Regions from separate parts of the Homo sapiens genome. Here region 2 is linked to region 1. A link means that fine-mapping ties the variant in region 1 to the expression of a gene that starts in the linked region. Tissue or cell type: whole blood. Region 1 holds a variant in brackets; the other region holds the start of a gene. All regions are shown on one strand. Distances are from middle to middle.

Region 1 (4,354 bases):
TCCTCTCCCTGTGTCCAAGTGTTTTCATTGTTCAGTTCCCATCTATGAGTGAGAACATGCAGTGTTTGGCTTTCTGTCCTTGTGGTAGTTTGCTCAGAATGATGGTTGCCAGCTTCCTCCATGTCCCTGCAAAGGACATGAACTCATCCTTTTTTTGGCTGCATAGTATTCCATGGTATGTATGTGCCACATTTTCTTAATCCAGTCTATCATTGATGGGCATTTGAGTTGGTTCCAAGTCTTTGTTATTGTGAATAGTGCCGCAATAAACATACGTGTGCATGTGTCTTTATAGTAGCATGATTTATTATCCTTTGGGTATACACCCAGTAATGGGATCGCTGGGTAAAATGGTATTTCTAGCTCTAGATCCTTGAGGAATCACCACACTGTCTTCCACAATTGTTGAACTAGTTTAAACTCCCACCAACAGTGTAATAGCATTCCTATTTCTCCACATCCTCTCCAGCATCTGTTGTTTCCTGACTTTTTAATGTTCGTCATTCTAACTAGTGTGAGATGGTATCTCATTGTGGTTTTGATTTGCAGTTCTCTAATGACCAGTGATGATGAGGTTTTTTTTTCATATGTTTGTTGGTCGCATAAATGTCTTCTTTTGAGAAGTGTCTGTTCATATCCTTTGCCCACTTTTTGATGGGGTTGTTTGTTTTTTTCTTGTAAATTTGTTTAAGTTCTTTGTAGATTCTGAATATTAACCCTTTGTCAGATGGGTAGATTGCAAAAATTTTCTCCCATTCTGTAGGTTGCCTGTTCACTCTGATGGTAGTTTCTTTTGCTGTGCAGAAGCTCTTTAGTTTAATTAGATCCCATTTGACAGTTTTGGTTTTTGTTGCCATTGCTTTTGGTGTTTTAGTCATGAAGTCCTTGCCCATGCCTATGTCCCGAATGGTATTGCCTAGGTTTTCTTCTAGGGTTTTTATGGTTTTAGGTCTAATGTTTAAGTCTTTAATCCATCTTGAATTAATTTTTGTATAAGGTGTAAGGAAGGGATCCAGTTTCAGCTTTCTACATACGGCTAGCGAGTTTTCCCAGTACCATTTATTAAATAGGTAATCCTTTCCCCATTTCTTGTTTTTGTCAGGTTTGTCAAAGATCAGATGGTTGTAGATTTGTGGTGTTATTTCTGAGGCGTCTGTTCTGTTCCATTGGTCTATATCTCTGTTTTGGTATCAGTACTATGCTGTTTTGGTTACTGTAGCCTTTTGTCTAAGTGAGGACACTTGTTTGTGCTTTCTATAATTTGGACAGCATGATAAGGTAGTTTTACGAAGGAATTTTGCATTTCTCACAAGACACTTTATATATCTATAAGTCACAGGGTTCTCCCCACCCCCCAACCCAGCACAGGGAATTTGAAACTAAATAAGGAAGAAACTAAATAAGGTGAACCAGACTCAATTCAAGTGAATTTCAGTTCTAGGTTTCTGCTATACACACTTTAATGGTGATTTTTAACCATTATTTATAAGTTATTGATAGTTCTGAGGTCTAGTCAAACCTTCCACAGCATTTAACCACAAGATGCATTTAAGTTAGATGTAAAAACCAGAAATCTAACTTGAGACCGACTTTGTATAAGACTAATTGAAAGGTTGATTGTAGATGGAAAATTCATAAACATTTAGTGATAGCTGTAGATTTCATTTCAACATAACACAATGGCAAAATTATAATTCTAATTTACATTAATTTATAAGAATGTTCTGAAAGTTGCAAACAATATCTAGAAAAAGTGATTGTCCCAAAGTTCAGATCCTTCAGTATTAGATACATTGTTTTTCTGTACTAGTGCAGAAAAAAAAACCAAAAGCCATTCATTTCCTGCTGTGACTTGTCCTTCAGAAGGTGGGATAGTTGCATGGAATGACTCATTTCCTTCACAAACTAGAAGTTGCCATTCTAACGAGAAATGGCAGTGTGGAAAGCGAATTAGTAAATGTTAAAGTATGAGTCCTAGGTAATGGGACCTGTTCATTAATTTGGACAGTGCTGTGAATATGTGAGTTACTCATTTTGAAATATACATTGAATTAGATATGATTAATATTCCAGTTGTTAAAAACAGATAAAGATGTCTTAACCTGACATATTTCCTTTCCATGAGTTTTAAATAAGAACCTGAGATCATTTTACTGGGACTATTATAGAAGTAATTTGTTTACGTGATGACTCTGTTCATGAACCTAATAAGCTTGCTTTCTTGGTCATTTTTTAGAGAAGGTTTTTATTTGATTGTTGAATCATAAAGAGACAGGACTCTTGCATTCCAGCTTCATCCTCTGGCTTTTCTGTGATTTTTCCTTGTTCCTCAGTCTCTTCATACATAAAAGAAATACATCAGCAGTGGCTCTGAGATGCAAAAATAAATATAATTGTCAATATTTAAATTGTAAAACTTTAGTAGATTATTCTTATTTTAATTAAAGGAGGAAAATAGACCCAAAATGATTTTAGGAGCTGATTCAGATAAATTGGTCAGGTGGTTTAGAATTTAAATTCATGGTTCTTTTCTACTGAATTTATTGGATAATAATTTATGCATATACAGATAAAT[T/A]TGGTGCACTTTAAAATGTGCTTAAAAAATCTTGTGTTAAGATCCTCTTCTTCCTGAATCAGAGGTCCACAGGCCTATTTTGGCCCACAGAGATGTTTTGTTTGCTCATAGAAAGTGTTGATTTTTCTTTTAAGTTATCAACCTATAAAAATACAGATTTCACCTAAAAAATAGATTTCCAATTACGCTTAAAGAATCATAAGATCCAGCAATGTCAGGTCTTTATCTCTACATAGCAACTGCTGCTAGTACTGAATAACTTTCCCCTTTCAATGGTGCATGTGCCTCAGCACCAACAGTCTCTGGGATGAGACCCCAGTACTACAAATCAGGGTTTTCTCTGTTGACCTAGATGAGAACATTCTGACATTGAGAATAAACAGTTTAAGCATCATTATTAAGTGGTATTTGAATTCAGAGATTAGGCACATGAACAAAACCTAGGGTACTGCTACCTTGAACTTCTTTTAGTAAGAAGCAAGTTCTTCTAACTTTCCTCTACTTTCTTTTAAGTTTGTCCAAAGGTGCATTTGCAAAGGGATTACAAAGACCATGGCAGAACCAGCCCACCCCTCCCTAACACACACATCACACGCTTATTCCACCAGCTCCTCTAATTAAAGGTCTCGCACAGCTCATACGACTCCCAAAGCCAATTAAACAATGCTCACCCTTGTACCTCACAGTAGGTTGGGGAGTAGCTTGGAAAACGCTGTGATTGATATGAAAAGTAGTAACGTATTTTTAAGCACTTTTAGCACTGTTGTTACTCTATGAGGCACAAGCTTTCAACATAGTGGCCTTTTATTTTCTGCGCTTTTGGAGTGTGAGAACACCATAGAGGCTACACGCACCACGGCGTTTCTGTGGGCTGGGAATCAAGGCCTGGAGAAGGGGGTGGGCAGCCGGGAAGTGACAGTGCAGGGAGGGGGAGTTGGCAGCTGTCAAATGAATGCATTTCCCTCTTCTATTATCCTGCTATCCGAATGCTCCATCTATTCATATTCATGGTTTCCATCACTGTGCATAGCACCAAGGCCAGCTTCCTTTTCACATTTCATCTTCTTGTCTTTCTTGGAGTTTCATTTTGATTTACTAAAAATCAGTGGACTGCTTCTAAACAAGGATCAGCTAATAGAAACTGGAGGTAGTTGGTAGAGAATCTACTGGGAGGAATTTATTTACATACAAGAAGTTAAAGCCAAATGTATGTGGTAAGTTAACTTTTTGTTCATCCATTGTTAATTTCATTAATTTCCTACTAATCTAGTGATTAATTCCCCATGTAGGAAGACTATATTCACATTGCTAAGAGAAAGGAATAAGTAAAACATTTTATATTTTAATTACAAAGTAATATATATTTAATTTAGAACATATAAAACTACAAAAATTTAGGAAAGTACAGAAAAGAAATTAAAATCACCTGAAACTAGACATAATTATTAGTAAGTTCTGAGTTTATTTCTTTACAGTCAAATATGTATATATATTTTTTAGGAAATTGTGATAATTCTAGAAATTATTCTCATTGTCTTCTTATATTTGTATAATACTAAATCATAAATATTTTAATATCCTTAAATATTTTATTAAAGCTTTTCATATGTCTATATAGAATTCTATAGTATGGATACTCCATGATTTTTGGGAAGTTAGGTTTTTCTGAATTTAAATATTAAACAATGTTGTGATAAAGACATTCACAAGCTTTCACATCCAAGCTTTGTGGAAATCTATGCTTTTTCCTTAGGAAAATTTCCCAGAAGTGATTTGTGA
Region 2 (4,000 bases), 31 kb before region 1:
CTGAAACAACTTTGAACACTGTCATATGTTCTTCCCAGCTCCTGAACTCTGACCTTTTTATGCCTTAGTTCCACTTTCACAAAAAGGGATTGATGTAATGTGCATTTCAGAGGAAACGACTATAGACATTTAGTGTCATTATAAATGTTGAGAAGTATGCTGGCAGAAATTATGCCTTAAGATCATATATGGATTCTTGTATGGTTTGAAATTGCTTAAAAGATATATATGATCTCTAAAATGTGTGTGTATATATATATGATGTCTTCTTATATATCTATATGTGATATATTTATATATATATAAATCTGTGTATATCACATATATAAATTTGCTGTTATTTGAATTGCCATTACCTCAGTGCTTAGGGGAAGCCATGCACGTTTGTTTCTTTTCAGTACCCAGAGTTAATTAACATAAGTTATCACAGAAGCTCCCATAAGCATTGAGACAATTTCTCTATACCTGTGACTATTTAAGGTTTTGAAAACAAAACAGAAGCAGGTAAGGAGGAAGTACGCTTTACTATTGAAGATTTATTAGGTACACATTTAGATTTGTGAACTCACATTGCTTAGGATGAAAGGGACTCTTGAGGATGTCTGCTGTTTGTTAGTGAACTGCCTGTAACAATTACAATTAGCACACACATGAGCACAATGAACTGGGTAGTCAGACTCAGCCAAAATGAATAGAAATAGCCTCTTACCAAATTTACTTTGAGTAGCCCTTGGACTCTGAGCACTGCTGCCCAGAGCAATATGACTGTAGGTCCAAGTTTGTCAATGACTATGCAAATGTGCTTTCTTCGCTTTTACTCTATTGTCATCTGTCTATTACAATGTTGCTATGGTGACACCTTTCCAATATCCCTGTGCTTCTTTGGTATCCTCTAAGGGGAAGCTGTAATGAAGTGGCTTGGCAAAAGAATCCTCTTGGAATTTTTTTTTTTTCATATGCTACTGAAAACCAGCATGATTTTCCTCTTATGGGAAATGTATAAAGTATGAGTTGGAAATGATGGAAATTAATCTGTACTGACTTGGGCAAGGAATGTGAATGTTATTCATTCTGTTCCAAACTACCTGAAAATATTCTCTTTCTGTTCCTACTTTCCAGGAGATAACATCTTAAGGGACACTGAAGCTTGTGCGTGTGTGAGTAGAACACGTGCTGGGGGCTCTTGAGCTCATGAGGGAGGGGCTACATGTCGGTGGGGTGATAACTGTATGCTGGAAACAATGATAGGTGGTGACCCTGGAGCACTTACCATGTGACAGGTGTTATGCTAAGCATGTTGTATGCATTCCTTCATTGAATGACAGCTACCTATATTATCCTCATTTTATAAGATGAGGTAACAGAGCTTCAGAAAGGTTAGACTCAGCTGCTATGGGTCTGTCTGACTCTGGTGTTCTTCCTCTTAAAAACTGGGGCACTTTGGAAATGAGATTCCTCGGTGATGAACAGAAATATTGCTTAGCGGCTGTATTTTTGTATCTGGCAGTTTTCCCATATTTGAGTCTTATATTCACAATCGGTATCTTTACATTACACAAAAGTGACACAGAATTAGAGTCATTTAATCCAGGGTTGATATCATTAAGTCATGACTATTTATTAAATGTTTCTTACAATATCTGAGATGATATTGCAAAAGATGTAAGTGATTTTAGAAGTTCTCACTTCGTAGTTAGTTGCAGAAACCTCTTTTGGAGGAGGGATGTTTTCTCTATATATCCTAATTTCTACTTAATATATTTCCACACCTCTTTGAAGTGTGTAGTAAGAATGGTAAAATGCAGTACTTCGTCATTTGGTACAGTTCAATCAATATGCATTAAGATGTGATCATATGGGTAATAGAAAAATGTGAAAGATCCAATTCTTTTTCTCCAGAAGGCAGGAAGCTCATATTTGATTTCTGTTACTATAAACTATAAAAACGTTTCAAATGTAGTTTACCCGTAACCATCACCCTGCAAGGGTGATATTGCTCCCCGCCAATTTACGGAGGAGAATACTGAGGCTTTAAGGTTGTAGATAGACCAAGACCACACAAGTAGAGAGTGGCGGGCTGTGGGTTGAGCTTTAAAATCCAGGTTCATCCATGACTCCCAGTGTGTTCTAGTAAATCCACTAGAATCTGAGTATTTTCCAATGATTTATGCTCCGCTCTGTGTCAGGCAGTTCATGGTATTTTTCAACAATCAGAAAATCCTGGGGAAGGCAAACTGTTTCCCCCTCTCTAGGTGCCTTGGAAGTGGCCGTTGTGGACCCAGAGATCATCCTTTCTGATCTGACACCTTCTTCACTGCCCTGGCCCAGTGTCTTTTCTGCAAGGCTGGAAGCCCCCTTAGACTGGTCATGTCCCATCTCTTTCCGGAGGGAAGATGATCCCAAAGACGACTTTTCTCTCCACGGTGCTGCCATACCGCAGGCGGCCGCCAGGGGTCCCCGCTCGGCGTCCCCGCGAGACAGTCGAGCCCCGGCCGGCTGCGCGGCGCGCTGGGTGCATGAGGGGGCTGCTCCGGAGCGACGGCGGCTGCAGCTGGAGCCAGGCGCTCGCCCGTCCGCCGGTTGGCTCGCCGGGACCTCGCGCACCGGCGGCAGAGTCCCTTGCGTGGATTGGCAAGCGACGCCCCACCTGCCCCGAGCTCACCATTTTCTTTCGCGCTGGCTGCAGCTGACCCGGCGAAGGGAGCCGACCGGGCCCTGGGCTGGAGGTAAAACCCCACGGTGAGTAAGAACCCGCTCCAAGCTAGGGGAGGCGGCGCAGCCCGGTGGCTGCTCGCTCCCGATCTCGCCCGGGCGGGCGGCGAGGTTTGGGGCGCACCTGGGCGCGGGTGCAAGAAGGTGCGGGAGGCGGCGGACCGGTCTTCTGCCCGCCGGCCACGGGCTTCCGGGGCTGGAGTCCTCTTCAGACCCCTGCCGGCGCCTGGGTTTCTGGCCGGCTCCTCGTGTGCACTTCCCGGCAGGAACAAGGGTCGCCCACTTTCCACCCCGGGATCTTGATTTGTCCTTGATTTGAAAAGATATAAATCAATAAGATCGTCCTTCTTTCGGGGTGCAAGACTCCGAGCCCATCCCCAGCCGCGGACGCCTGCAGGGTGCGTGTTGGGCTGTGGGTGGCGGGAAGACAAACTTTTACAAAAGTGCGCCTGGGCTGGGGGACAACGCTTGGGCGTCCTGATCCTGAGGGAGGAGTCTCGGCTTGGGGCAGCGTAGGGGAAGTCCGCACCGTCAGCCAGGTCGCCCCCGGGGCTGACGATGCCTCACGGAGGTGGGGAGCGTGTAAAGGCCGTACAAATCGCGCTTAACTTTGGGGCCAACAACTGTCAAACATCTGGAATCCCAGCCCCTCCCTTTCCCTGAACTGGGGAAGAAGGTGAAAACCCTTCAAGTTTTCTTTGATTGCCCCTTCCCACCTTCAGACCCCTGCTGGGAGGGTAAAGCGCCGACCCCTGGTGCCTGGCAAGTACCAGAGACTCTAAATCTCTCGGGATCCCCCCCCTCGCGCTCTTTCCTGACCCTCTCCCCTAACCCTCCCCACAGAGATCTCTCTACGCAGCCGACTGAGATCGTGGCGAATGGCCTTTTGTTTCTCCGCGTTTCCCCTATTGTTTGCCTTTCCAACATCTGGCGGGGCTTGGGGAGAGAAGGAAGCCCCTCTGGTCCCCCTCCCCGGCCCCCACGCCAGCTCCGGCAGGGGATCCCAGCTGGGAAAGTGGAGGAGCCCGACCCCAGCGAGGCCGCCCCACCCCGCCCTTGTGGTTAGAGGGCGGAGGGAAAGTTGTTCCTTCCCCGCCTCCGCTGCTGCCTGTGGCCCAGGGCGCATTTCTCAGATCTCAGCCCAGGCGCGCCGCAAAGGCTCAAATCCGAGAAGGTGCTGCTTTCGAGACAGTGGAAGCGCGTTCCGCCCCAATCCAGAGCGTCCAGTGGTTGGTTCCAGAGGATTTCAATCTCTAGCCAAAGGCGTTGGGGCTGGGCCGCTGCTAGG

What was found. PIP is the estimated chance that this variant, and not a neighbour inherited with it, causes the effect.
Region 2: MOB3B starts here. The variant in region 1 is fine-mapped to the expression of MOB3B in whole blood (TOPMed, PIP 0.92).

Annotation. Positions count from the first base shown.
Region 1 is chr9:27,497,223-27,501,576 of GRCh38, reverse strand. The region is part of intron 1 of MOB3B (MOB kinase activator 3B); the gene reads left to right. Among named protein-coding and RNA genes, the nearest start is that of IFNK, 25 kb to the left of the region's middle. The variant T/A (reference allele first, on the strand shown) is at 2,576.
Region 2 is chr9:27,528,294-27,532,293 of GRCh38, reverse strand. MOB3B (MOB kinase activator 3B) reads left to right here and starts at 2,480. Exons shown (of 4, transcript NM_024761.5): 1 at 2,480-2,739. It overlaps LOC124902107 (dapper homolog 3-like), which reads right to left and starts at 3,838. Exons shown (of 2, transcript XM_047424279.1): 1 at 3,568-3,838; 2 at 1,594-3,274. The coding sequence starts at 3,838. The coding sequence ends at 2,286. RefSeq lists silencers at 2,433-2,732, 3,703-3,752.